Regions from separate parts of the Homo sapiens genome. Here all the other regions are reported to be linked to region 1. Evidence: microRNA targets listed by miRTarBase, many of them from high-throughput screens and not tested one by one. Region 1 holds a microRNA gene; each other region holds the end of a gene's coding sequence.

Evidence for each region. The annotated mature microRNA hsa-miR-5684 reads AACUCUAGCCUGAGCAACAG and lies in region 1 at 4,064-4,083, opposite strand. An mRNA with a match to its seed (bases 2 to 7 or 8) in the 3' UTR can be bound and repressed. Matches are read on the target gene's strand: a 7mer-m8 pairs with bases 2 to 8, a 7mer-A1 pairs with bases 2 to 7 and ends in A, and an 8mer does both.
Region 2: the mRNA of PRAMEF4 is a reported target of hsa-miR-5684. Seed matches in the 3' UTR shown: 7mer-m8 at 6,122-6,128.
Region 3: the mRNA of POLA2 is a reported target of hsa-miR-5684. The part of its 3' UTR that is shown has no 7-base or 8-base seed match.
Region 4: miRTarBase lists HIVEP2 as a target of hsa-miR-5684. Seed matches in the 3' UTR shown: 8mer at 4,267-4,274.

Annotation. Positions count from the first base shown.
Region 1 is chr19:12,783,920-12,791,214 of GRCh38, reverse strand. It overlaps MIR5684 (microRNA 5684), which reads right to left and starts at 4,087; the gene lies at 4,023-4,087. It also overlaps a transcript of HOOK2 not described here. RefSeq lists cis regulatory regions at 1-24, 864-1,384, 6,244-6,764, enhancers at 1-366, 667-1,166, 2,071-2,640, 5,945-6,064 and a silencer at 851-1,620.
Region 2 is chr1:12,873,178-12,880,472 of GRCh38, forward strand. It overlaps PRAMEF4 (PRAME family member 4), which reads right to left. Exons shown (of 4, transcript NM_001009611.4): 4 at 6,035-6,928. The coding sequence ends at 6,367. Among named protein-coding and RNA genes, the nearest start is that of PRAMEF4, 9.4 kb to the right of the region's middle.
Region 3 is chr11:65,295,454-65,302,748 of GRCh38, forward strand. POLA2 (DNA polymerase alpha 2, accessory subunit) reads left to right here. Exons shown (of 18, transcript NM_002689.4): 16 at 87-146; 17 at 411-537; 18 at 1,667-3,232. The coding sequence ends at 1,816. It overlaps LOC105369344 (a long non-coding RNA gene), which reads right to left. Exons shown (of 3, transcript XR_007062727.1): 3 at 1-171. Among named protein-coding and RNA genes, the nearest start is that of CDC42EP2, 16 kb to the right of the region's middle. RefSeq lists enhancers at 5,852-6,389, 6,390-6,926.
Region 4 is chr6:142,748,225-142,755,519 of GRCh38, forward strand. HIVEP2 (HIVEP zinc finger 2) reads right to left here. Exons shown (of 10, transcript NM_006734.4): 10 at 3,245-5,707. The coding sequence ends at 4,883. Among named protein-coding and RNA genes, the nearest start is that of HIVEP2, 190 kb to the right of the region's middle.

The DNA of each region.
Region 1 (7,295 bases):
GGGTTTCAGGGAGGAGGATGATTTCCCTGGAGTCCACTGGGACAAATACCAGGACCTGGTACGCAGCAAGTGGGGTGAGGGTCCCAGTATGTGCGAAGAAACCCCTGAGGTACCCAGAATACGAGAGGGGTAGGAGGACTGACAATCCATTGGGAGACCCCAAAAAGCAGAAATGAGGGTTAAGCACTGTAAATCGGGAGGGTTAAGGAGACACCTGACCCAGGAATTGACTGGGGGTCCCGGGCTCAGAAGGATGCGGGACTGGAATTTTCACAGGACGGAGGAGGGGAGAGATCAAAAGGGGTGAGTGGGTGGAGCTGCATGACCCATTAAATTGCAAGAAATGAGTAGGGGTCCAGGAGCTCATGGGAGCTGAGTCCAGAGTCTGAGGCTCTCCCGTAAGCGGGAAGGAGGCATTAGGGGAAGTCTAGATATGCAGAAAGCTAGTAAGCGGCCTGGGGTACACTGAGGCAGGTAAAATATGCCAGGTAGAAGATGGAGACATGTCTGCCAGAAATTGGGGACCACTGGGGTCATCTGCTAGCCCGGATGAAGGAGAGAGTTAGAAGGGGCCGGACACATCTTCGGAGCAGAGAAGACAATAAGAGGGTACTCAGTTGACATGTGAGGAGGGGGCCTTGAGGGTCCCGCGCACCAGGACTGCTGGATCTTCCACGACTGCTGCTCCCCCTCGATGGTAACCTCTTAGTCATCTGTATTCTCTGTCCCCCATCCTAAAACCCTCCCCTATTGACCCTGGGCTTTGCCCAACACCGTGTCGGCTCCTAGAGCCTGGACCCAGCCCGACGGCTGGGGCGCGGTCGCCCAACCCCACTCCCTTCCTTAGAAACAGGCTGGGGAAAGAGCGCAGAGGCAGGAAGTGTGGCAACAGCCCCGGGGGAAGGAGCCCGGCCCTGTCTCCGTCACTCGGATCCTACGGGACCGTGCGCCCCGCCCTGGGTCCCGCCGCATCCTGCGCCTCGGAAGAGGAACCTGGGCGTGCGAGCCCCCGCGGAGGCCCGGGTGCTTGGAGCCCGCCCAGCCGCGGCAGCCTCCAGCCACCATCCTCTCCCCTCAAGCAATGGTTCCGCCCGCGGTGCCTGCAGGGGACCGCGGAGGCAGGCGGCTTGGGGAGTGTTCCATTGGCCCGACGGCGGGGGACGCAGCCGAGGAGCGGGGCCTGGTCGCCATGGCAACAGGCGGGAGTCCGCGGGCAGGACTGAGCGCGGGCCGGCCCCCGAAGTCTCTCCCCGCCGCCCATATTAGGGCACAGGAAGAGGTGGGACCAGCGCTGTCCTGGGGCCCCGAGCCAGAAGCGGGGAACCCGACTATCTGCCAGGTCCCAGGGCGCGCCTGGGCCCCCAGACTGCTAGTCCCGACCAGCCCCGACCGCCGCCCCCGGGGCCCCCACGGCCGCCTGGCCCGGCCCCGCCCCACCCCGCCGCTTTGGGGCTGCGTCCTGCCAGGCCCGGCCTGGCCCAACCCAGCCCGGCAGGTCCCCGCCTGCCCGCGGGCCTGGGTCGGACTTCGCCCCCGGCCCGACGGGGCGCGGAGAGGGCGGGCCGATGCCTCGAGGCGCCCCCGGCGCCTGGGCGGGCTGGAACGGCGGCTGCCTCCTCCCTCGGGTGGGGTGCCCTTCCCTTCTGCCAGGAGATCTGGAGCTCCGTCCCCAACACCCCCCACTCACTCATGTGAGTCAGGGGCCCCACTCTCGTTTTAGTCTGCAGGTCCCATCCTACTATCATCCAGAATACCTAGAGGGAGCCCCCCTCCTTCCCTAGAGTAGCTCTGTCATCTGAGAGCTTCCCTCCCCGAGTCAGAGAAGACCTGAAAATCTAAGGGGAGAATATGAGGGAACCCAGAGCCCCTTCCCGGGAAGGGCTGCGGCGAGGTGCAGACGGTCAGGCTTCCAGTTAGACTTAAGGTGGGACTTCCGAGCAGTTAGTGTGTGAACCCACTAGACCAAGAGGTGAGAAGCCTAGTGTCTCTGTCTCTGTCTCTGTCTCTCTCTCTCTCTCTTTGTCTCTCTCTCTCTCTCTCAGCTTCCCAGGCCTCTGTCTTCTGGAGGATGAAGAGAGCCTCTCTCTTCTTTAGGGTAGAAAGAGGCTAAGGGATAGGGGTTAAACAGCCATTCCGGGGCAGCCTAGATCTCACCAAGTGTGGGAAAGAGAAGGAAAACGAAAGAGGCGAAAAAGAAACTGAGCTATGTGGGGGCAGGGGGAAGTCCAGCAGTGCAGTGGCCTTGCTGGAGGAAGGTCCCAGCAGAAGCTGGGGGCGTCCCGTCCTTGGAGGGTCCCTGTGACCCCTAAATGCCCCCTCCCTTCTTCCCCTTGCTTGAATGGCTCCCCTCCCCCTCCCCAGGCTCAAGGGAGATTCCGGAGGCCTGTGAGTCTGGCAGGCACACTGCCAGGCCTGTGTCTCCCGCCCAGGCTAATAACTGCAGCTGACATCTGGCTGGGCCCCGCGGGGGCGCAGCGGGCAGCGTTGGGGGGTTGGGCAGGGCAGGGCAGGCCAGAGGGCAGCACCTTGGGAAGCTAACTTGCAGGTCCCAAAAGCCAGGAGGCCACAGTAATTCAGCCCTGGCCAGGGCTGAGGCTGGCCATGCCAGAGGGAGTCCTAGAGAGAGGTGAGGCCATCCCAGACAGAGTCCATCCCAGGAGGAGGGCAAGGAACAGTGGGTGTATGGGGGCAGGGGCGCAGGGCAGGGAGAGATGCCCAGAGAGACAAATGGGTTCAAGGTTAGTGTCACGCAGACAGTGAGACTCAGAAACACTTAAGATAGATAGGCTGAGAAATAATAATTATTATTTTAATAGCCAACACTTACATGGCTCTTACTGTGGGCTAGGCACTCTTCTAAGTGGTTAACATAAAATAAGTCATCGACTGCTTCCAACAATCCAGCAAAATGCATGTTATTTGTATCCCCATGTAACAGATGAGAAACTGAGCCACAGGAGATTAAGGAACTTGTCTGGTGTCCAACAGCTAGAAGCACTAGAGTTGAGATATAATCCAAGCTGTCTGGCTTCAGAGCATTAGCCACTGTGTTGTGAATAATGACAACCAGAGAAGCATGTATGCAGTACCAGCTGCAGGCCGTCTCATGAAGGGCCTCTTTTTTTGGTGTTTTGTTTGTTTGTTTGTTTGTTTGTTTTTTGAGATGGAGTCTTGCTCTGTCGCCCAGGCTGGAGTGCAATGGCATGATGTTGGCTCACTGCAACCTCCGCCTCCTGGGTTCAAGCGATTCTCCTGCCTCAGCCTCCTGAGTAGCTGGGATTACAGGCGCATGCCACCATGCCCAGCTAATTTTTGTATTTTTAGTACAGACGGGGTTTCACCATATTGGTCAGGCTGGTCTCGAACTCCTGACCTTGTGATCAGCCCGCCTGAGTCTCCCAAAGTACTGAGATTACAGGCGTGGGCCACCATGCCCGGCCCTTTTTTTGTTTTTTTAAAGAGAACCTCACTTTGGCCAAACACAGTGGCTCACGTCTATAATCTCAGCACTTTGGGAGGCCGAGGGGGAGGATCACTTGAGCCCAGGAGTTTTTTTTTATTGTTTGTTTTGTTTTGTTTTTTTGAGACAAAATATCACTCTGTCGCCCAGGGTGGAGTGCAGTGGCACAATATCAGCTCACTACAACCTCCACCTCCCAGGTTCAAGCTATTCTTCTGCCTCAGCCTCCCGAATAGTTGGGATTACAGGCGCATGCCACCACGCCAGGCTAATTTTTTGTATTTTTAGTAGAGATGGGGTTTCACCATGTTGGCCAAGCCGGTCTCGAACTCCTGACCTGAAGTTATCTGCCCGCCTCAGCCTCCCAAAGTGCTGGGATTACAGGCATGATCTACCTCGCCCAGCCCTAGCCCAGAAATTTTTGAGACCAGCCTGGGGAACACAGCAAGACCCCCATCTCTACAAAAAAATTTAAAAATTAGCTGAGGTCAGGAGGGTGTGCCTGTAGTTCCAGCTACTCCGAAGGCTGAGGCAGGAGGATCACATGAGCCATGATCTTGACACTGGACTCCAGCCTGGGCAACAAAACAAGACCATCTCACTCTGTTGCTCAGGCTAGAGTTCAGCTACACAATCATAGCTCGCTGCAGCCCTGAACTCCTGGGTAAAAGCGATCCTCCTGCCTCAGCCTCCAGAGTAACTGGGACTACAAGCACACCACAACTGCTAAGTTTTATTTTTTTATATTTTATTGAGACAGGGTCTCATTCTGTTGCCTAGGCTGGTCTGGAAGTCCTGGCCCTAAGGGATCCTCCCACCTGGGCCTCCCAAAGTGCTGGGATTACAGGTGTGAGCCACCGCACCCCACTGAGGGTCTCCTTTAATTGGGGGAGAAATGTGGTGGGGCACAGACAGAGGGGCACGGGTCTCTGTGGACAGGCCAGCATGTGGGAGTAGGGTTCCTCCAAACACTCTGCATGGGTGTTTGAGCACGGGGTGGAGATTGGGCCAGACAGGGAGGGCGGGGGCCCAGCCAAGCTGGTACAGCCGGTTCCAGGCCTCTGCCAGTGTCACCCTTGTGGCCTGGGCACCACCCCCTCAAGCCGCCCCACTGGCGCCAGGCCGGCCCCACGAGGAGGGTGGGAGAACAGCCCCCTCCCCCAACTGGCCTGAGCGTCCAGACTGGCAGCTGGGTACTGCCCAGGCCCTGGGCTCCAGACCAGCACCTGGCTAAGAAGTCCCTGCGCAGGCTTCCCCAGTGCCCCAGGGCCTGGGGCCTAGGGCACAGGATAAGGAGGAAGTTCACCCACCCCCACCCACAAGTGTCTTCGGGGCTTTTGGTCTTGGCACGAGGGACTTCTCCTTCTTATAAATAGCCCGGTGACCCCCCTCCCTGCTGGCCCCACTGACCAGTGGGGCCCTCACTAGGAAACTGGGCTGGGGGCTGCCTGTGAGTCAGCCAGTGGGCAGGCCAGGGCGAGAACCCACAAATCGCAGCACACAGCACCCAGCCTCCCTCCCGTGTCCCTGCCCCTGGGTGTGGATCTGAGGCCCGGCAGGAGCCCTCCCCCAGGAACTCCTGGCCTACCAGCCGCCTCCCTCTCCCACCTCTGTGGTTTGGGGGTCCTTTGCCCCCTCTCCTGGAGAGGAAGCTGCTAGGTTTTCTTGGAAGCAGGAAGGAGAGTCTCTCTCTTTCTCTCTCTCCAGGCTGACATGGTTGGGCATGAGGGGAGTTTCTCAGGAAGCTGCTTCCATCCCTGCCACTGCTGGTGAAGCCTTGGGGGACCTGGGCATCACCAAGACCCTGGGTGACCTCTTTATAGCAGGCCCCCACCCCAGCAGGAGCAGAGGCTGCTGAGCTAGGCCTCCTAGGGGAAGTGGCAAAAGCAAAGAGGGAGGGAAGTGGGGGTGATGTTTGGAGAGAGGAAGTGCCAGGATCTCTGTGGGGCAGAGACAGACTGGGGTGTCCAGTGCCCCCACAGAACCTTGGCAAGGTCCAGGGGGCAAGCGTGTGACTGGCCTATAGGGTGCATGTGAGAGTGTGTGCTGGTCCAACCCTGACACCCAGGCCTGAGAGACAGGAGTAGCCCTCTGCCCGCTTCTGTGCCCAGCCCTGGATGCAAAGGTCTATGTAGGGCTTATCTGTGTAGAGTTCTGTTCCACTCTGTGTGTGTGTGAGCTCTATAGGATGGGTTGCACATGGTCTAGATGTATGTACGTGTAGGTTGTTTCAAAGTTCCTATGGCTAACTTGTGTCGGTGTGTATGTGTGTTTGTGTGTGTGGTCTGTGGCTGGTCTGTATGTGTGTATATGATCTGTTTGTGTGTGTGTAAAAGAGGTCTGTGGCTGGTCTGTGTGTATACGATCTGTAATGTGCATTTGTGTGTGTGTGAAAAAGAGGTCTGTGGCTGGTCTGTATGTATGTGTGTATACGATCTGGTGTGTGTGTGTGTGTGTGAAAAAGAGGTCTGTGGCTGGTTTGTGTTTGGTGTGTGTGTGTGGTCTCTGTGTGTGAGGTCTGTGGCTTGTTTCCATGTGTGTGTTCTGTGGCTGATCTGTATGTTGCCTGTTACTGATCTCCGTTTGTATGTGTGCATGTGTGTGTGTGCAAACAGGTTTTGTCATGGTCTTTCTGTGCCGATGTGTTTATGAATGTCCCACTGTGGCCTGTCTGTGCCTCTCTGCACTGGGTGTGACTGTCTGGCCAGACCATGTCTGTGAATGTGTCAGTCTGCCCAGATCTACCCAATCTGTTGCCAGGTCCCACATGTGTGTGTTCCTGGTGAGATGGTGTGTACCTCTAAGGCTTCGGCTTGGTGTCCCTGGGAGCATCTCTGATGTGTGTGCAACAGTGGTGGGCCAGGGTGCCAGGGACTCTCTGCCATACTGTGAACACATCATCTCTGTCCCTAGGTTTGTCTCTCTTGTCTTGTCTCTATCTTCTGAGTTGGAGATCTGGGGTGTGTGTGTGTTGCCTTCTCTTGCGTGTCAGGATCTGATAGTGCATGCCTGTGTCTGCATATCTCTCGTGTGGCTCTCGGGGTGCTGGTGCTGAAAGTGACTGTCTCTCCTATCAGCATGCACATGTTGCCTGCTTGTCTCACATATAGTTCACTCTGTGTCTGTCTTGCCCCTATGTTTCTAGCCTATTGTGTTTGTCTCCATGTGTGTCACACGCCATTGTGTCTGCCTTGCTGTGTGCCTCTCACCTGAATGTCAGTCTCTGTGTGTTTGTGTCTATCATGCTTATGTGCTGGGTTGATTTATCCCCGCCGCACACGGCCTGCCTGCGTATTTTTGACCAGTGGATGCGTTCATGTGTTTGACGGTGTGTGTCTCTTGCTTGAGGGTCTGGTCTGTCACTGTGTCCATGTGTGACAGTCATTGCTGGATCATCTTACCCAGCTGTATGTCTGACCCTGTCTGTGTGTCCCTGGCTGGCAGTCTCTCTGTGGCCAAGGTGACAGGGGTTTGTGTGTCTGGACTGGCTCTCTCGGGGTGACTGTGTGTACATTCCTACAGCCCCCCGCCCGCCCCCTGTCTGGTCACCCTGGGCCATGTTTACTCTGCCCCCAGTCAATGTCTGCCCTGCCCCGGGAGGGGCTGACCCTCCTCCGTCTGTCCAGCCAGCAGTCCACAGGATGTTCCCGAGACACAGTCTCCATCCGACGTCCCCTCCCTCGGGCCACCCGCGGGTCAGGACCCAGGCGTCCAGGGCGGCGGGGGTGGGGCTGCAGCGTGGGGGGGCCCTCTCAGGGCACTGGAATGAGGGTGGGGGGCGGGGAGGTGACGGGCCCAACAGGTTGTGCCTCATTCCTGCCCCGCCTCTCACTTC
Region 2 (7,295 bases), not on the chromosome of region 1:
TTCATCTCTCAACTCATCAAAGTCCTTCTCCCTCTAGCTTTGTTCCATTGCTGGTGAGGAGCTGCGTTCCTTTGGAGGAGGAGAGGAACTCTGATTTTTAGAGTTTCCCATTTTTCTGCTCTGCTTTTTCCCCATCTTTGTGGTTTTATCTACCTTTGGTCTTTGATGATGCTGATGTACAGACTGGGTTTTGGTGTGGATGTCCTTTCTGTTTGTTAGTTTTCCTTCTAACAGTCAGGACCCTCAGCTGCAGGTCTGTTGGAGTTTGCTGGAGGTCCACTCCAGAAGCTGTTTGCCTGGGTATCAGCAGCAGAGGCTGCAGAACAGTGGATATTGGTGAACAACAAATGTTGCTGCCCGATCATTCCTGTGGAAGTTTTGTCTCAGAGGAGTACCTGGCCATGTGAGGTGTCAGTCTGCCCCTGCTGGTGGGTGCCTCCCAGTTAGGCTACTTAGGGGTCACAGACCCACTTGAGGAGTCAGTCTGTCCATTCTCAGATCTCCAGCTGCGTGCTGGGAGAACCACTACTCTCTTCAAAGCTGTCAGACAGGGACATTTAAGTCTACAGAGGATTCTGCTGCCTTTTGTTTGGCAATGCCCTGCCCCCAGAAATGGAGTCTGCAGAGGCAGGCAGGCCTCCTTGAGCTGCAGTGGGCTCCACCCAGTTCCAGCTTCCTGGCTGCTTTGTTTACCTACTCAAGCCTCAACAATGGCAGGCGCCCCTCCCCCAGCCTTGCTGCCGCCTTGCAGTTTGATCTCAGACTGCTGTGCTAGCAATGAGTGAGGCTCCGTGGGCATAGGACCTTTTGAGCCAGACACGAGATATAATCTCCTGGTGTGCCATTTGCTAAGACTGTTGGAAAAGTGCAGTATTAGGGTGGGAGTGACCGGATTTTACAGGTGCCATCTGTCACCCCTTTCTTTGACTAGGAAAGGGAATTCCCTGACTCCTTGCACTTCCCAGGAGAGGCAATGCCTCACGCTGCTTTGGCTCATGCTCGGTGCACTGCACCCACTGTCTTACACCCACTTTCTGACACTCCCCAGTGAGAAGAACCTGGTACCTCAGTTGGAAATGCAGAAATCACCCGTCTTCTGCACCGCTCAGGCTGGGAGCTGTAGACTGGAGCTGTTCCTATTCGGCCATCTTGGCTCAACCCCCTAGTTAATTTTTGTGTCTTTAATAGAGACAGGGTTTCATCATATTGGCCAGAGTCGTCTTGAACTCCTGACTGAAGTGATCCACCCACCTCAGTCTCTGCAAGTGCTGGGATTACAGATGTGAGCCACTGTGCCTGGTCAATTGCTGGACGTTCATGATACACCTGGAGTATCCACAGTATCACAAGGGCCATTTTTTTCCATAATCCAATTTATTTATATTATTGGTAGTGAGCTAATGTTGATGTCCCCAAGGTAGCAATTTAGTGACTATACCCATGATAAACGTTTCCATGCATCACGTGGTCAACAGCATTTGCTACCAAGTGCCACGTTCCATGCTCAGCAGTGGGAACACAGGATGATGGAGACAAAGTTCCTGACCTTTAGCAGCAATATCGAACAAGTGAGATTGTCAAGAAAGAAGAAATCATTGTAAAACATACCATACCCCTACAATTCCGTAATCATGCTCCTGGATATTTAATGAAGTGAGTAAACCCACACCTGGATGTTTACAGCAACTTACTCATAATCGCCAAAACTTGGAAGCTAGCAAGTTGCCCTTCGGTCAGTGACTGGATAAGCAAACTGATCCATCCAGTCAGTGAACTATTATAAAGCTGTAAAAAGACATGAAAAATTCCTAAATGCACGTTATTGTACAAGTGAAAGAAGGCAATCTGAAAAGACTCATCCTGTTAGACATTCCAGAAAAAGCTTTTGCATTTTTCTAAGGAGACAGTAGAAAGCCCAGTGGATGCAAGGGGTTGGGAGCACAATGGGATGAATGGGAAGAGGACAGAGGAATTTTAGGGAAAGAAAACTACTCTCCATGATGCTCTAATGGTGGATACATGTCATTATCCCTTTGTTAAAATCCATAGAATGTACAAAACCAGCAATGATCCCTCATGTGAACTATGGACATTGGGTGATAATGATGTGTCCCTGTGGCTCATTGGTTGTGATGAATGCTCTGTGCTGGTGTGGGTGCTGATCCTGTGGGGGTGCTGTGTATTGAAGGGGGAAGAAGGTAGATGAGAACTCTGCAGTTTCTGCTTAGTTTTTCTGTGAATCTAAAACTGCTGTAAAGGAAAAAATAGGCTGGGTGTGGTGGCTCACGTCTATAGTCATAGCATTTTGGGAAGCCGAGGCAGGTGGATCACCTGAGATCAGGGGTTCCAGACCAGCCTAGCTAAAATGACAAAACCCTGTCTCTACTAAAAACTGATAATAATAATAATACAAAAATTAATCAGGTGTGGTGTTGCATGCCTGTAATCCCAGCTACTCTGGAGGCTGAGACAGGAGCATTGCTGGAATCCTGGAGGCAGAAGTTGCAGTGAACAGAGATCGTACCTCTGCACTCCAGCACGGATGACAGAAGGAGACTCCATCTCCAAAATAAATAAATAAATAAACTCAAGGCTGGGTGCGGTGGCTCATGCCTATAGGAACTCACTCCCAGCAATTTAGGAGGCCGAGGCAGGTGGATCGCTTGAGCCCAGAATTTCAAGACCAGTCTGGGCAACATGGTGAAGCCTGGTCTTCACTAAGAATACAAAAATAAGTCAGGCATGATGGTGCATGCCTGTTGTTCCAGCTACTAGGGGGACTGAGGCAGGGAGATCACCTGAGCCTAGGAGGTCAAGGCTGCAGTAAGCCGTGATCATGCCACTGCACTCCAATCTGGACAACAGAGTGAGACTTTGTCTCCAAATAAAATAAAATAAAATAAAATAAAATAAACTCAATATTTTTTAAAACTGTAATGTTTCCTTTCAAAGCTAAAATTGTATTATTCTAAATATATTTTAAAGAAGAAATGATTATTGTTCAGTGTCTTTAAAATTAGTTTTTAAAATCTCATTTGTTTTGACATTTCAAACCAAGTTAAGTATTCTTTTTCTCACCCTCCTTGAGACGGAGTCTTCCTCTTTCACCCAGGCTGGAGTGCAGTGGTGCATTCTTGGCTCACTGCAACCTTTGCCTCGCAGGTTCAAGCGATTCTCTTGCCTCAGCCTCCTGACTATCTGGGATTACAGGCACCTGTCACCACGCCAGGCTAATTTTTTGTATTTTTCGTAGAGACGGGGTTTCATCATGTTGGCCAGGCTGGTCTGGAACTCCTGACCTCGTGATCTGCCCACCTCGGCCTCCCAAAGTGCCAGGAATACAGGCATGAACCACCACACCTGGCCATTAACCATTCTTGAAATATCACGTTGCATTCTTTAAAAGTTCTAATCTTTCATATACATAAATTACAACACAAATATTTATACTCTAATAGTATTCACATTATAGTAAATTTTTTTTCATGCTCTGTCGCCCAGGCTGGAGTGAAGTGGTGCCATCTCGTCTCATTGCAACCCTCACCTCCCGGGTTCAAGTGATTGTCCTGCCTCAGCCTCCTGAATACCTGGGATTACAGGCGAATGCCACCACTCCCAGCAAATTTTGTGTATTTTTAGTAGAGATGGGGTTTCACCATGTTGGCCAGGCTGGTCTCAAAATCCTGAGGCTGCCTTGGCCTCCCAAAGTGCTGGGATTAGAGGTGTGAGACACCATGCCCGGCCATAATAATAAATCTTATTTTATCTTTTTTTTTGAGACGGAGTTTTGCTAGGGTTGCCCAGGCTGGAGTGCAATGGCTCAGTCTGAGCTCACCGCAACCTCCACCTCCAGGTTCAAATGATTCTCCCGCCTCAGCCTATCGAGTAGCTGCAATTACAGACGTGCGCCACCACGCCTGGCTAATTTTTTGTATTTTAAGTAGAGAAGGGTTTTCTTCATGTTGCTCAGGCTGGTCTCAAACTCCCAACCTCAGGTGATCCACCTGCCTCAGCCTCCCAAAGTGCTGGAATTACAGGTATGACTCACTGCACCTGGCTCATAATAGTACATTTTTAAAAACACCATAAAATATAATCCTTGCAACACTCAATTATACCATCTGGTCGGATCTATCAGCAGATGGCACCCGAGACATACGGATTGGAAATTTTGATCTTATTATGAATGAATCCAGTCCAGAAATGCCCACCCTGCCCCCTGCTGGCTCCTGGGGCTCTGCTCTTTGGGGCAATCATGATGAAATTGTGGCAGAGAGTAGAAGTTGAGCCCCATTGCATGCCCTGAGTTCTTGTTGCCTCTCTATTATCAGGAAAAGGAGGTGAGATTGAAAGATGAAAAGTGCTGGGACTTCTGCTGAGAAGAGAAAAAAGAACAAGATGTATTGATCTTACTGTATGCCAGACCCCATGCCAAGCCCTAAACATGAACCATCTCATTGGATCCTACCAAGGTCCCATAAGCTGTTGGACATCATCATCCTCATTTTACAGGAAGCTGAGGCTCTAGGCTAACATCCCTGACAGCAACACCAGCCCCTGAGTACACAGCAGGATCCTTCACTTGGGTGCCCATTATGCAGAATTCCTCAGCACAGGGAAGGTCACTCATCACCCACAGGCCCTTGATCGTTATCCACCCTTTGATGCTGTCAGATTCCAGAACACGCTGCACTAGTCTCTTCCTTCATAGGGAGAGAGGGGAGGTGTTATGAGAAAATCTCTCATCAATCTGACCTAGCTCCCCCAAAAGATGTAACTTTTAAAATGTCAGATGGAAATATTTAAAAAGTGTTATATGCCTGTATAGTTTTAGTATTTTACTTAAAGGGAATGTGGCTGTCTTTACTGGCTACAACCAGTTTAATTCAAGAAGGGCTGCTGGTCATCAGGAGAACAAGCAAGGGTTGATGCTGCCCAGAGTCTCCAGCTAATACACAATATGGACATCCCCTTCCAGGGCAGCGGGAAGAGAGTGGCTCCTTGTGCAGTGAAGCTGACATCCACCAACTAAGGCTTCTGGAAGCATGTGGAGACTCACAGGGAGTGGGCAGGGTCTCAGCATCTGGATAGCGGTGAAAGACCCTGAGAAGAAGGTGCTTTCCGTGTGGATTGGCTCACTGTTCTTGCCCAGCAATGTTCCAGGCCTTTGGTGTCCACCTAGTGTGTATTAACCCACTGAACAGCCACAGAAACTAACAAGGAGTTAACAGACATCTAAAGAAGTGAAGAACTGGAGGAGGCCAAGCCAAGCGTGGTGGTCCACGCCTATACTCCCTGCATTTTGGGAGGCCAAGGCAGGAGAATCACAAGCTCAGGAGTTCCAGATCAGCCTGGGGAAGACAGCGAGGCCTTGTCTCTACTAAAAAGAAGTATCCAGGTGTGGTGGCTCACACAGCTGTAGTCATAGCTACTCAGGAGGCTGAGGTGGGTGGATCGCTTGAACCCCGGAAATTGAGGTTGCAGTGAGGTATGATTGTGCCACTGCACTGTAGCCTGAGTGACAGGAGACCTTTAAAAAACAAACAAACAAAAAAGCCTGACACAGTGGCTCACACCTGTAACCCCAGCACTTTGGTAGGCCTACTTGCATGAATCACCCAAAGTCAGGAGTTTGAGACCAGCCTGACCAACATAGTGAGGAAACCCTGTCTCTACTAAACATACACAAATTAGCTGGGCATGGTGGTGCATGCTTGTAATCCCAGCTACTTGGGAGGCTGAGGCAGAAGAATCATTTAAACCCCAGGTGGAGGTTGCAGTCAGCTCAGATGGCACCATTGCACTCTAAACTCCAGCCTGGGCAACAAGAGTGAAACTCTGTCTCCAATAAAAGAATGGGAGGAAACTGATTACAATAACCAAATTTCATTTAAATGCCTTGATTTTCTTGGGCTGCATCTTATTGATTGGACAACTCAGTCAGTGCCTTTTGTTTTTTCCATCAATAACTGAAGATTCCTGAGGCTTAAACTGGAAAACAGGTTACTTAATAATAGAGGGCACCAGACAGATTCTGCTCAGTTTTCCTTTATTTCTGATTGTTTCTTTACAACCATCCATGCAAGAGTAACTCCCTCATGTATTCTCAAGCCTGAATTCCACTCTAGACATTCAGATTCCCATTTTCGACTCTACAGGACACAGGTCCCCAAAGTCCCATCGAATCCATGGCAACATTTCCCCCAAGTCCGGCCCCTGCTTGATCAGCTTTCCTTTCCCACTTTCAGAGCCTATGTGTGAAATGATGGGTTCTGTGCTCCCTTTAGGATGTACCTAAGACCTAGGTTTTAGTTTCCAAGTGTCCAGAAGAAAGCGTTTGACATACCCATCCAAATAGGCAGGCATTCAACAGCAGTATTGATCTGCCTCCAGGTCATAAAATGACCTGTTGCCACAGTCAGGGCAGTAGTCAGTACAGAACAAGATCCTCTTGGGGTGCCTTAAGTCCCTCACTCTGTTCATCAGCTCAGCCCTAATTTGAGCAAATCTGCTCCAGCAGAGAGTACCATCAGCACCATAACTCTCCCGGGGGGCAGGATACAGCTCCACGCATAAGTTTTTGAGTATGATTGTGTGGCTCAGCAGGTTCTCCAGGGTGGCCATGCAGATGGGATTTCCACAGAAGCTGAAGGTGTTGAGCTCAAAGCAGCGGCTCAGGGCAGGCAAGATGGCGTTGACTTGGGAGTCTATGATGCCACAGTCATCTAAATCCAGGTACTCAAGGGTGGCTGCAACTTTTTCTAGGAGAATTTGGAGAGGCACAAGACTGTAATTGGTCAGTCTGATGCCACTCAGGTCCAGGGTCTTTAGTTGACTGATACTCGGGCACTGGGATAGATGCTTCAAGTCTGATTCCAAAAGCACACAGTTAGTTATTGTGAGGAACTTTAACGAGGTCTTCAGACAGCTGGGGAGAGAGAGCAAGAAGTTAATTCTGGGGAATCATAGGGGTGAGTGGAGGGTGGTGGGGAATGGCTTCAAGGTAATGGATGGAGACCTTTTTGCCCAAGTCCAGGGTCATTCTGATGGCCTGATGGTCAACACTTAGGATGATGTGTGATGAAGAGCTTTGCCACCGAGGTCAATTCCACTTTAGACCCGGCCCAGTAACTCACACCTGTAATCCCAGCACTTTGGGAGGCTGAGACTGGTGGATTCCTTGAGATCAGGAGTTTGAGACCAGCCTGCTGAACATGGCAAAACCTCCTCTCTACTAAAAATCCAAAAATTAGCCAGGTGTGGTGGGGGGAGCCTGCAATTCCAGCTACTTGGGA
Region 3 (7,295 bases), not on the chromosome of region 1:
CTGGTTTATTAAATTCTCCAGTCCTCCCTGAAGAGAAATGGGCTGAAAAACAGAGTTCTGTTTTCATGCTTTCTTTTCTTTCCCAGTTCTTCCGGAACTTCAGACAGATTCAGCCGAATACTCAAGCACATCTTGACCCAGAGGAGGTGAGCTTGCCGCTGGGACCCCTGACTGTGGAGAGAGTGCCTTGGGGTCATGGAGCTATGACAAGCATGACTGTAAGAGCCTTCACCAGGCTACCAGCAGGGAACTTTACCCTGTGATGACAAGCCTGCATTCTGCCCCACACACACAGAGAAAAAGTCGGTCTGTGGATGCCAGCAGCACGAAAGCCAGTACCTAGGGGGACTCTGTCTGAGAAGGGGGCCCCCCGGTCAGCTAGTGCTGACAATTTCTCTCTGTCTCTGTAGCTACTACCCACTCTACCCGCCCCAAGAAGACATGGCCATTGACTATGAGTCGTTCTATGTTTACGCACAGCTGCCTGTCACCCCAGATGTCCTCATCATCCCGTCAGAGCTGAGGTACTTCGTGAAGGTAGGTTTGAACTCTGCTTTTTCCCAGAAACACCAGAACCCAGTCTTTGACTTTCCCTTCTAGACCACCCGGCACTCACCCCTCATGGGTCAGCTGATGGGGATGGGGCCTCTAGCACCCTGCCCTGTGGCCTTGTTTCTTTGGGGAGGTGGTGGGACCAGAAAACAAACAACTCTGTCAGTAAAATGCTTGAGTAAACAGTGTCCTCTCCTCCCTCCCCAAGAGAACGAGAGCCCAGATGACTAGGAAGGCCCTCAAATGAGGGCTTTCACCAGGCCACATAGAGGTGACCTGGGGAAGATTTCATATGTACACTTGCCTGTCCTCTGCCTCCCAAATTCTGATATGACCTCCAAGTGGGCTCAGCTGGGAATACCTTGAAGAAGCTATTGGGTCATTTTGATCTCTGCCACCCTTTAGCCCTGCCTGCCTTGGAGTTAGGTCCCTTACAAGGAATCTGCCTAGACCAGTCCCCCTCTTGCCAAACAAGAGTTAGTTCAATCTCAAGAGGTTAAAAAAAAGTTTTTCACATGAGAAAGCAGTAAACAGCTAGATCAGGTTTGTCTCCAAGTTTAGGAGCTGATTGTCATTCTGCCAAGTCACCTCATTCTTCTGTTTGAAAGACTTAAAAGGAATTCAAAGCTTTCTAGTGACAAGTTAACATATGTGACTGAGGCCGGGCGCAGTGGTTGACAATTGTAATCCCAGCACTTTGGGAGGCCGAGGTGGGTGGATCACCTGAGGTCAGGAGTCTGAGACCAGCCTGGCCAACATGGTAAAACCCCATCTCTACTAAAAATACAAAAATTAGCCAGGCATGGTGGTGTGGGTGCCTGTAATCCAAGCTACCTGGGAGCCTGAGGCAGGAGAATCGCTGGAACCCGGGAGGTCGAGGCTGCAGTGAGCTGAGATCTCACCACTGCACTCCAGCCTGGGCAACAGAGCGAGACTCCATCTCAAAAAAAAAAAAAAAAAAAGTGACTGAAAATGTGTCTGGTGATTTGGTTGCCTTCGTTTCCATTTTCTAAAACCCTCTTTGGGGTCCAGCCATGTGATGGCACTTCTTTTTCACATTGGTTCCCAGTTAGTTGAGGCTCTCCAAACCTGTCACCTCTCCTCTCCTCCCCAGGATGTCCTCGGCTGTGTCTGTGTGAACCCTGGGCGCCTTACCAAAGGGCAGGTGGGAGGCACCTTCGCCCGACTCTACCTTAGGAGGCCGGCAGCGGACGGGGCAGAGAGGCAGAGCCCATGCATTGCTGTGCAGGTCGTCAGGATCTGAGGCTTCTGTCCTCTGCTGTTCTCTGCTGTGTGGGCCCTTAAAGTCTTAGCCAAGAGCCAAGACATAGCCCTGTGACAAGGTGAACAGTTGGGTGGGAAAGGAGAGAGGAGCCAGCCAGGGAGGGGCAGCTGCAGTGACCAGGCCCAGCAGGGAGGACTTGTGCAGCCGGGCCTGCCTCTGAGTGGTGCCTCTCCTGGAAGGAAGCTCTTGCTTCTCAGTCCATGCTCCGTGTCCAGAAGTAAGCCAGCTGTGGATCCCGCCCACTCAGAAAAGGCGAGAAGGCTTTGTGATTTTCTACATGAATCAAACACAGAAACAACTTTTGGAGAAATTAAATTCTGAGTGTGACTTCTGAGTTTGACCTTTCTTCTATTTTCTTTTATTTATTTATTTTGTTTTTAGACGGAGTCTCGATCTGTCGCCCAGGCTGGAGTGCAGTGGTGAGATCTCGGCTCACTGCAAGCTCTGCCGCCCGGGTTCATGCCATTCTCCTGCCTCAGCCTCCTGAGTAGCTGGGACTACAGGCACCCACCACCACGCCTGGCTAATTTTTTGTATTTTTAGTGGAGATGGGGTTTCACCATGTTAGCCAGGATGGTCTCGATCTCCTGACCTTGTGATCTGTCCGCCTCAGCCTCCCAAAGTGCTGGGATTACAGGCGTGAGCCACCGCGCCCGGCCCCTTTCTTCTATTTTCTTTATCCTGGTAGTAGACAAAGAATGTTGCCTATTTGACCTATGTCCAGAGAAGGCAGAGTGTCAGTCACACTGGGTTTCTATCCAGCCCCAGTCCTGTCCAGTGGGTAACTCTCAGCCCCACTCCTCATCCCCCAAAGGCCCCAGTGACCTCTATGCTGCAGAGGTGCACTGGGTGGGCCCTAGAGCTGGGCTGCAGAGCAAGCAACTGGCTGCATGCCTGGGCCTCCCTGCGCAGTTCCTCACATGCATGCTGTGGTCCCAGCCTGACCTCTCCATCTGGAGGGGGCCGCCTCGCTGGGCTGTTCCAAAGCTGGAGTCCTGGTGGCAGCTGCTTTGCCAAGTCGCGCAGTAGCCAGGGCTTGCCTGCAGCCCAGAACACTCAGACAGGGTCAGGCCTTCCAGGGTTCACAGCACGTCCCATGCCCCTATGTCCTGGCATCTGGGGAAAAGCTGTCACTGGCCAGACGTGGAGTGGCTTCCTGCCCTAAGCTGGCAGGCTGTCCTGCCTCACATGCCAGAGCCAAGACCGGCAAACCCCAGCTGTCAGGGCAGGGAAGTGGGCAAGGGGGCAGCAAGCTGCTGGTGTCTATGCCTTGACTCCGAGATAAATAGATGACCTAACAGTGGCCAACTTTTGCCTCTCACCTTTCTGACGGTGAAATGGAATCGAGCCCCAGACCTGACCAGGGTACAGTAAAAGGTCTTCCTTTAAACACAAGGAGCAGCTGTTTTATTTCATTAGTTTTATAGGCACCTCCTCTGAGGCCAAGAATTAGAAACTCATCCCTGCGTGGGGAGTGGATTTTTCCGTTCTCCCCCAGCTCCTCCACACATGAAGCAGCCAGCTGTGTTCCACGGGGGCACCATGACTTGTCAGCCTCCGGATGTGGAATTTTGGGAGCCCAGGCAATGGTTGCCTGGATACCAGTCGTGTGACTGTTGGAAATGATCTGGGAGGGCCGGGAGGGCCGGAGCAGGCATTTAAGAGTCAGACAAAGAGAAAGCGGGATGCTAACACCAGAGCAGACAGGTCTGGCAGGCGTGCCTCTGCCACCAGACAGTTCCTTTTTGCTCTTGTCAGGAAGGTGCCAAGTGACTGCTGGCTGACCGTCCCTAGACCCCACTTCAGCTGTGTCACCAGTTTCCCCAGGCATCTGTCATCCCAGGTATTCTCAAGCAGGCTCTGGGGGCGTGTCAGTGACGGAGGGTGGGAGGGTGCCCAGGAGGTCAGGCCCGTCTGCCTCAGCCCCCTTTGGTGGCCTCTCCCTGATCTGGTCATGGCCCCTGCCCTTGAGACACCAACTAGACGGTCCTGAAGAAATAGTCCCGAGCTCTTGCCAGGATTTGCCTCCCATGCCCATGCCCTTGCCCTGCCTCTGCCCTGGCAGAAGGAGCCGCCCTCCCTTACCCGCCTCGTGGCTTCCCTTTAGGGTTCCAGTCTCTGAGAGGGAGAGGGAGAGCTGCTGAGGGAACAGAAGCCACTCCTAGTTGCTGTTCCTGGGAACCCAAGTGGGTGCCAAGAATGCAGCGAGGGAATTAGGGCCTCGAGGGGCACCCAAGGTTGGGGGCCGGCAGGGCCATGGCGCGGATCCTCCATCCAGCTCTGCCTTCTGCAGCCACTGGGGCTTGGGGTTTCCTTTCCTTTGACCTCAGGGCACCCGGCCCAGCTCAACCTGGCCTTGCTGCTTCACTACTGCTGGGAGTAGCCATCTGCGCTGATTTCTCACTCCACCAACCCCACCCCGACAGAGTCTCACTCTGTCGTCCGGGCTGGAGTGCAGTGGCGCGATCTCGGCTCACTGCAACCTCCACCTCCCAGGTTCAAGCGATTCTCCTGCCTCAACCTCCCGAGTAGCTGAGATTACAGGCGCCTGCCACCACGCCCAGCTAATTTTTGTATTTTCAGTAGAGACGGGGTTTCGCCATCTTGGCCAGACTGGTCTCAAACTCCTGACCTCAAGTGATCCACCCGCCTCAGCATCCTAGAGTGCTGGGATTACAGGCGTGAGCCACCATGCCCATTTTAAAGTGTATGATTCAGTGGTTTTTAGTATGTTCATGGTGTTGTGCAGGCCTCGCCACCATCTAATTCCAGAGTATTTTCATCACCCCAAAGGAAACCCTGCACCCATTAGCAGTCTAATCCCATCCCCTGGCAATCATTAATCTAATTTCTTTTCTGTAGATTTGCCTATTTTGGGCATTTTGTATAAATGGAATCATACAATACATCCTCTTTTTTTTTGAGACAGAGTTTTGCTCTTGTCACCCAGGCTGGAGTGCAGTAGCGCAATCTCGGCTCACTGCAACCTCTGCCTCCCGGGTTCGATGGATTATCCTGCCTCAGCCTCCTGAGTAGCTGGGATTACAGGTGCCTGCCACCACACCTGGCTGATTTTTATATTTTTAGTAAAGACAGGGTTTTGCCATATTGGCCAGGCTGGTCTCAAACTCCTGACCTCAGGGTTCAGCCTCCTGAGTAGCTGAGATTACAGGTGTGTCTAGAACTCCTGACCTCAGGTGATCCACTCGCCTCGGCCTCCCAAAGTGTTGGGATTACAGGCATGAGACACCGTGCCTGGCCCATGCTCTTTTCTGTCAGGTTTTGTTTGTTTGTTTTTTTGTTTGTTTCTGAGACAGAGTCTCACTCTGTCACTCAGGCTGGAGTGCAGTGGCACGATCTCTGCTCACTGCAACCTCCACCTTCCGGGTTCAAACGATTCTCCTGCCTCAGCCTCCTGTGTAGCTGGGATTACAGGCACCCGCCACCGTGCCAACTGATTTTTGTATTTTTAGTAGAGACAGGGTTTCACCATGTTGCCCAGGCTGGTCTCGAACCACTGACCTCAAGTGATCCGCCCACCTCGGCTTCCCAGAGTGTTGGGATTACAGGCGTAAGCCACTGCACCCGGCCTGTCAGGTTTGTTTCACTTAGCATGATGTTTTCAAGGTTTGTCCCTGCAGCAGCATGTATCAGTCCGCCATTCTTTTTTATGGCTAAGATCCCACTGTATGGCTATACGGTATTTTATCAGTGCATCCACTGTCGGGTTTTTCCCCTTGTGGACTATTATGAATAGTGGACGCTTGTGTGCAAGCTTTGTGTGAACACCTGTTTTCAGTTCTCTTGGGTATGTTCCTAGGAATGGGGAGGGGCTTTAGATTTACGAAGGAAGACAAGGCAAAGAGAGGGAGGGAGGAGGGACAGAGGGCGAGAGAGGGGTAAAAGAAAAGAGGGAAAGGGAAGGGAGGCAGTGATGGGCCCGGAATGGTGCTTCAGAGCCAGATTGTGAAGTCTTGCTAAGGCATTTGGACCTGATTCTTTCTGCCCCAGAGAATCTTGGAAGGGTTTGCCTCCCACCCCCTGTGCCTCACCCTGACCACCCAACAAGGACCAACTTAAGAGGAGTCCCAGGTGCAGCCTCAGTACCTGGTAGCATGTAGCAAAGGGGTGGTTTGAGGGGAGAGGGGCTCAGGGGAGGGGCCTGGGTCTGTTGGGGCAGGTCGGGAGGAAGAGGGGCACCAAGTGGGCCATTGGAATACTGGAAGCAGCACTCCAGTGAGACATGGGCGTTGGAGGGGTAGATGTGGGAGTCACTGCAGTCAAAAGCCACAGAACTGGGTGCTGGGAGGGTGGCCGAGAGATGGATGGGCAACATCCGCACCATGGAGAGGACTCTGGCCAGCACTTGCACTTAGCATCACTGATCAACAAGGCAAAAGGGTGGGACTGGCCTGGGGGCAGGGGAGGGAAGAGGGATGGCAACAGAGAGGTGCTGGGATTTCTGGCTAAAGAGACCAGAAGACACCCATGGTTGTTCATGGCAAGACTCCCAGCTGCATTCAGGCATTTGGGACCTTCTGTCACCGTCATTGGTCATTCTGGGTCTTCAGTCCCCAAGCGACCATGCCTACTGCTGCTTTCGTGGGTCAGCCCTGGAAATGCCCAGGGGCCTAGGGGCTGGCCTGCCCTCAGACCCAGCTGGACTGCCGCTGGCTCTGAATTCCTCCATCCTGCCCCGCCTCTTCCCGGGGCTCTAGGCTCCTCCCCACCCAGAGCCTGCCTGACAGCTGAGGCCCTGCAGCTGCCCAGGCAAAGGGGCCCCTGGGAGGTCTCAGGGACAGCTGCTGCCCATAACCTTGCTGACCCTGGCCCCTGCACACTGCTCCCTGAGATCCCAGGCTTCTGCCCAGCAGCCAGCAGGACCCTACCAAGCCCCATCTTCTCTGCTCACTCCCATCGCTCCCAGATCTTCCCAGGGGCTGAAGCATTTTGGGCTGAGCATTTTCGTGCTGAGTCAGCAGGCCCCACCCAAAGAGTGAGAAAAGCTGCTGGGTAGAGGCACCCCTAGCCCCGCTCCTGCTTCAGAGGAAGTGCCTTTCAGGGGTGGATGAGGGGTACACCTGCCTCCGTCAGGCAGGCTTGGCCCTGTTCAACAGGGTGGGGACCCTGCCCTCCCACCACCTGCCTCCTACCACAGAACAGGGCACAAGGGTGGCACAAGGGGAAAAAGGAGAAGGCACCATCACTCCTGATTCCCAGCGAATAGGGGGAAAAGGCATACTCACTCCTGATTCCTGGCAGCTTCTTCCCTTGAAGGTCCACTTTCCTCCTGAGGACTCGAGGCCCCTTCAAATTGCCCCTTAGAATGTTTCTAGTAATAGTAGTTGCCTCTGGGGACGGGTGTCCAAGGGCTAGGGGTCAGGAGTAGGAGGGCTCAGAGAACGATTTGTCATGTCCACACTCAACCTGTTTGAATTTTTTTTTTTATTTTTTTGGA
Region 4 (7,295 bases), not on the chromosome of region 1:
TGTATTTCTAGTCTTGAAATCCTGGCTTCAAGCAATCCTCCTAGATCAGCCTCCCAAGTAGCTGGAATTACAGGCACAAGTCAATACATCCTGTCAAATGTATATTTCTGAAGGTGGCCTTAGTTGTTGATAAGCAATGGATATGTATGCATAAAATGATCCATCTAGAGAATTCTAGAAAATAGAGTTTGTGTCTTCTTCTTGTTACTCTTTAGGTACTGTTCGGTGCCAAGTAGAATAATTTCCACCACTTTCCCTGTTCTTCAGTACTACTGCATAGCCAAGCTGGTTTATTGTTGCATATAAAGTCTGGGTAAGCATATGTTTCTCTACACTCGGAAATTAATGGGAGCTGATGCTCTGTATAATGTCAAATTGCCCCTGGGAAAAAAAACTGTACTGTGGCAAAGTCGATGCCACCATATTTAGTAATATATTTTAAACTAATAAAGACCATTTCCAGGGCAGAAATAAGCTTTGTTGTTTTTGTATGATTCTGAGCCCATTCAACCCAACAACTTTCACAGTACATTATTGTGATTGTAATCTTGATCTAAGTGAGAAGAGCATAAATAATGAGAAACTGTTCTTTAAGCAAACCTGGACAAAGAGGTGGGAGCTCATTTTTAGCCTTGATTCTGTAATGAACCACCTATTTCTCCTTGAAAACTTCACCTAACTTCTCTAGACTACAGGTTTTGGAAAAGATATTTGTAAATGACAGGTTAATTTAATAACCTCTAATTTATTATTTAATAATGAAGCTACTATTATGCTACTAAGGAAATAGTAACTAATAGTAAATAATTCCACAAATGCAGTTGATTTTTTCTCAGAAAATGATGTTCTAAAAGTTTTGTTTTCTAGAAATTATCTTGGGGAATATATTGAAAATCAAGTTCTCAAAAATATTAAACAATTTTGTATCATTAAGGCTCAGCAGATGAGATGTGCTGTCCTGTGAAGTATACCTTTGCTCGCCCCTATGTTCTTTGTCTACCTTTGGAAACCCTCAAACTTCCTCTTCTACCCCTTTATATACCCTGAGGAATTTCATCCAATTCAGTGCTCTCAGCTATGATGAAAAACAAGAACTGACAAACCAGTCTCCAGCTCTGGCCTCTCTTGTTTGAGGTTGAACTCCTTCAGAACTGCTAAGGAAAGCTCATCTCTTTACCAGCATTCTGTACAAATCCACTCTCTTTTGTGGCTGAATAATGCCACCCTCATTCTATTGTCCAGGTTAAAAACTCATCATCTTTAACTTCTCCATCTCTTTCATCCCAGCACCAAATCAGTCTAGCTATCAGCCATTCCTCTTCATTAAGCAAAACTGTCCCTTCTTTCTCCAGGTCTCCATCATTTGTTTGGATTGTTGCTGCTTTTATTTCCCTTATCTTCGCTGGTGCCACAGTATTTTATTTTTCCCAAAATAATGATAACGACAACAATTAGCAAGGCCACTTTATTGCTTCAATCCTTCCTTGGTTCTCCATTGCTTACAGGGCCAGACCTGTAGGCTGGATTAGGAAATTGGACTTTGATATGTGTTTCTAGCTTAACCATGTACTACCTTGCCACATACCTAGGGTGCCAGCTACATCTTGCTTTTTACACATTAATTGCTTTACACATCTCAGATCAGATCTAATATGCGTTTTCCCACTAATTTTTTATATTGCCCTCTCCTCTAGAATATAAACTCCATTAAGGCAAGGACTTTATCTGTTTTGTGCCATATTGGACACCTAGCACACACAAGAGTACTCCAATGTAGGTGATGAAAAGCTACGTTGAATGAATTAGTCAATTTATTGTTTCAAGGATCTGTTCTAAGGCTACCTCTGTGATGAAGCTTTTCTTCATTCTCAGCAGGATGATTGCTCTCTCCAGGATGATTTCTCTCTCCCTTTATGGTTATAAAACCAAATGTGCAACTATTTTAGCTCAAACATCATATTATCCACATTTACTTACATATATGTCTTTCCTATTTACTTGAGCTCCTTGGTGGCACGGATACTCTTTATTAATTCTAAATGCCCACCACCAGGCTGGGAGCATTAGGTTCACACCTGTAACCCCAGCACTTTGGGAGACTGAGGCAGGCAGATCACTTGAGGCCAGGTGTTTGAGACAAGCCTGGCCAACATGGTGAAACCCTGTCTCTACTAAAAATGCAAAAATTAGCCATGGTGGCATGCACGTGTAGACCCAGCTACTCAGGATGCTGAGATGGGAGAATCACTTGAACCTGGGAGGCGGAGGTTGCAGTGAGCTGAGATAGCACCACTGCACTCCAGCCTGGCCTGCAGTAAGACTCTCAAATAAATAAATAAATAAATAAATAAATAAATAAATAAAAATAAAAATAAATGCCCACTATCGTACCCAGTTCATAGTTGGCACTCAATAACTTTTATGAATGAATGAATGACTGAATAAATGAGTGATGAATTAGGTAGAGGAGGAAACAGAGTAATTTGATTTGGCCTGGGATCACCAACACACACACACACACACACACACACACACACACACGCACGCACACATCAATGAGGAATATGACACACAAATCACCCTACATAATCAAAAGATTCTTCTTGGTAAGAGACAGATATTAGAGTGTCTGTGTTGACCTTTAAATCACCTTTGTAAAACACAGTTTAAAAAGACAGTCTGGCTCATAAAAGCAAATAGGTACATTGTAAATCCACAAATTTGAGATTTTTATAGTGAAAATACTAATAGGTTTTGACTTTTAATGAGCTTCTGCTCTTATTATTAAAAAGATTCTACTCATTCTAATAAAAGAACTGTGATTTGTGGGTATCTTCTGATATATTTTAGTTGATTCTTAGCTTCAGCCACCTTAGCAAAAAGAAAGAAGAGGTTTCCCCAGTGGAATTTCAGATAAGTATGCATACTGCAAGAGAGGCAGAGGAAAAATGATAATTTGCTTTATTCATGAATCTGTTCAGATGCAACGTATGCTGCCCAGGCCCATGCTGAGGTTTGGATAAGTCTATTCCTAGGGCCCACACCTTGGTGACCACTATCTGTTCTAATCAGATAATCTATGGAAGCCAATGACTGTCTTCTCACTTGTTAAAAGCATTCACACTCAGGATGGGCAGAGCCTAGCAATTAAAAGCACAGATGGTATGTTGCTAGTATCAAAATTACTTTAGAAACAAAATTGGGAAATTAAAATGTAAAGCAACACATAAGAACTAGACACCTCAAGCATGTAATTGTATATTTATTTCTCTTTTTAAAGAACACTCCTTAATGTAATTCAATATACAAACTTGGTTTCACAGAATTATAATCCACTATATAGCACAAAGATAACCCAGATTGTATGTGTGCGTGCACACATGTGCGTGCCTGTGCACATGTTGCTGCACCCCTCCCTCTCTTTCACTCTTCTGGACCTACAAATGCTCTTCCCACCTTCAACACTAACCAAAAGCCATTGTGAGTATTACATACAACAGACATCCTCCCACGAGTTCTTTGCCCTTGAAAGATTCTTTTCCCCATTCCCCCTGAGATAGCCAGGAGTGTGACACTCTTCCCCTATGAAAAAGGGTAAGGTGACCTCCCCTAACACAGATGTTAACCCTGTTCCCATGTAAACCGGCTGACAGGAAGAGCTGGGGAGCAGGTCTCCATCTCCTTTTCCCCCTTCCACACCCAACCCTCAGAGTCCAAGTGCGACCCTCTGTGTAGCCTTAGTTCCAGTCACCATCCTGTGTAGCAAGAACTAAGGAGATTGCTAAGCCCAGGTCTTCTCCATGAGCAGCGCACAGCACTGCCTGCCAAGCCACCGGGCCGGCCGATAACCAAGCTCTACACAGTCCCATGTGCTTTGTCACCTTAATTTTTTAAAGACACCTAGCATAGGTCTGTGGCAACCTAGTGTCCAACTGAGTTACATAAAATTGTACCAGTGATGCACTTGTACATATTTACATGGGGTGGAATGTTTTCCCATATTTTTAGATGAGTATATAGATCAACATGTTCACATAAGACCAAATACTTTTAATATTATTTATAACTGATTTATAAAGCTTTGAAAAAACTCACAATAGCACATTGTTTACTTTAATGCTTTACGGTACTATCATTTTAAAATCACAATCAGCACTTAAGTTATAGTCAATCCAGCAAACAAGAGACAAAAAAATATACAAGAGTTAAGAACTGACTGATACATCCTTTATCTTTTTTTAACTAATGCATAAGTGCAGAATAAGATACTCTAGTTTAAATATCTTGTTTACAATGTACATTTTTGTTCTAGTTACGCAACAGTAAATCCCATGCTTCACATAGAAAAGCAATCCACAACATTAAGAAAAAATGTACAATTTATGAAACAAAGTAAATAAATATTAGTATTACAGAATCAGAGCTGTACATAAAAGCTGTTCAGTTTTAATCATATAAAAATATGTTTTAGTGCAACCTCACATATATATTGATGCTGTTTTGCTTTACATCATTTAGATCCAAGTGTCCAAAAAAGGAAAGAAATTACATTTATTACAAAGCAGATACACAAATTCTAAAATATGTACAAATTACTGCTAAAAAATGCTTATAAGAATATAAGCAAAGTAAAGAAAAGGCACAAACATCTGTACAATTTTAAAAGTACCAGACCCAATAGGTTAATTTCAAATTTTGTTTTGGTCAGGCTCATGATGACTTGTTAATTTACCTAATTCTTTTGATATAACAAAAGTATATATAATAGCAAACTACTGTAACTTAGGACAGGCATGCTATAAACTGGATTACCTCCATTTCTAGAAAAACAAAAACAAAAAAATGGGAAAATGTGGAAATGAAAGTCTCCATGCATCATAGATCAATGTAGCTGACTCTTTTCTGATGAAGGATCTTTGCTTTCCTCTGTGCTTGAAGATAATTCCTTGCTGCTGTGAAAGTCCAACTGCTTGTCATCCACACAACTCTTGCTGTAAAACGTGGAGTGAGCTAATGGAGTCTGTGATGTACCAAAATTGTCCTTTTCACCATCATGCAAGTCAGGGTGGGTGGCTGAGGTACAGGGCTGACCTGGCTCAGGTCTACTAAAGTGTCTAATGCTAACATGTGCACTTCCCAGGGGGTTCTGGTGGGGCTCCTGCACCCGCGCTGGCTGATCTGGCCCGAGCAGAGCTGCCTCTTCCGTGGCAATCCGGAGAGAGGCAATGGCTTTTGTACAAGTCTGTATATTTTCCTCCTGTTCCCGCTCTGTTGCGTTTAGGCTGTCTTCCGAAGTGCTCTGTTTCATCAACAGCCGAGGAGAGGAGGGAGTGCTAGGTGGACCAGATGACTGCAAAGCGTGAGGACCTCGCTTCTCATGCTGCTTAGAAAGCACATAGGGGTCCTTGGAGAAGGACTCCCCTGACGCGCCTTTCTTCTCCTCAAAGCCCTCCATTGGCAGGGGCAATGTGGGTGAAGGATGTAAACTGGAAAGGGCTGGCGGCATGGAGTGAACCATCTGGATCCCACCAACGGGCACCATGGGGATAGGGGCTCGCACTTGTTGCTGAGAGTGGAGTGGAAGATGACTGAAGACATAGTCATTAGGACCCTCAGGGAAAAGGCTGGAGCCTGGATGTTCATAAGCACCTTCTTGGTCTCCATAGAGACTGAAGTAAGGAACCTGAGGTAATCCTCTTCTTAAATTCTGCGCAGAGAAACAAAGAGAGCACAAAATTCAGAGCCTGCTACGCTTCATTCTTAGGTCAAGCTGTTGGATTCATTCACTCACCCATTCACACATTCACTACCTAGAGAGGCTTCAATACCTAATTCTTTGATCAAGTTTTCCTATTTCAAGACAAAAGAGATTTCTCTGTTCTCTTTTATAATCCTTGAATAAAGGTGTCGGCCTGTGAAAAGTTGCTTTTGTTTTTAAACAGCAAGGTGATAAAGCAGTCAGGGTGTTTTCCATTGGGTACAGAGACACATTTCAGCTCTGTTTTTTTCACAAGAGATAATGAAAAGAAATTAATGGATAATTGGCAAAAAAAAAAAGTTTACTGAGCAAAAAACACTAATAAACATTAATAATATTTTTTTTAATTCAAAAGGAAATAAAAAGATTACCATCTGTTGCTATACTGGACAGATTTTTAATATTTTTCTTAAGTGTTGATGAGTATATAATTGGAATGACAAGTCTGAAAATTGGCTTTTTTAAAAAGTTTTCCACAGAACAGATGACAAAACAGTGGTGAGGATCCACAAACTGGTTCCTCCAATGTGTAAGACATTGGTCTAAAGGAATGCATTCCTGCTAAGAGATACTCAATGCAGAAGGCCAGCTTCTCCATCCAATAACAAACCAAGTCCATTTAAGTCTTACATCAATAATAATTTTTTAAAGGAAACTATCCATCATAGAAGTAGTTAACATTATTTCAGACAGTTAACAACTTATATTCGACTCTATACTGTGAACCAAAGATGACTGCATCTTAATTCTTTTGTTCATATTATCATTTCCACCTCAATATCTTCTTGGCAATCAATGAATTAAGGATGCTTAAAATGTTCAGCCAGAATTTCAGATTTCATAGTCCTAGTCCTGAAAATGGAGAATTTATTTTCTATACTGTTTCTGTAGTGAAATACAACTTAGATTGTCAGATTATCAGGTTTTAATATTATCATATTTTAATTAATGTGATTCATTCTTTAATGGATTGTCATCTAAAAAGGACTTCATTTATTTTTCTATTTTTTGAGAACCAAAGATAGATAGATAGATATAAACCCATACAGTATGGTAGTAGTCCAGGATAGAGCCAAAGAAACTGTTCTATTTCAAGAGTTTCAGTTCTAAAACTCAAGGTATGCTCTGCAGCATTAAAGATTCATCCAGTTCTATCTAGATTATGATTTCTGCTACTCTCTAAGATGCTTAGCCCTTACCCTTCTCTGTGATATATCATATGCAAGCTGGAAACATGGATTCTCCTGAAAGTGTGAGTGAAACGGTGCAATCATTAACACTATCGTTACCACGACCTCATAAGCTGGGAAAGGTGGGAATTTTACGGTATGAGAATCATTTAAATTCTGCACATAGACAAAATCCCCCTTGTATTTAATCAGGTTTGGAAAAGGCACGTCTCCTTCATCAAACACCAGTTTGGGAGGAAGACCTGTAATGCCTACAGTAACGATCTTTGAAGATAATCAAGTACGTTTTCTTTTAATCACAGCAATCACAGATTCAAAGTTTAAAATAAAACCGAGCTTGGTTATTT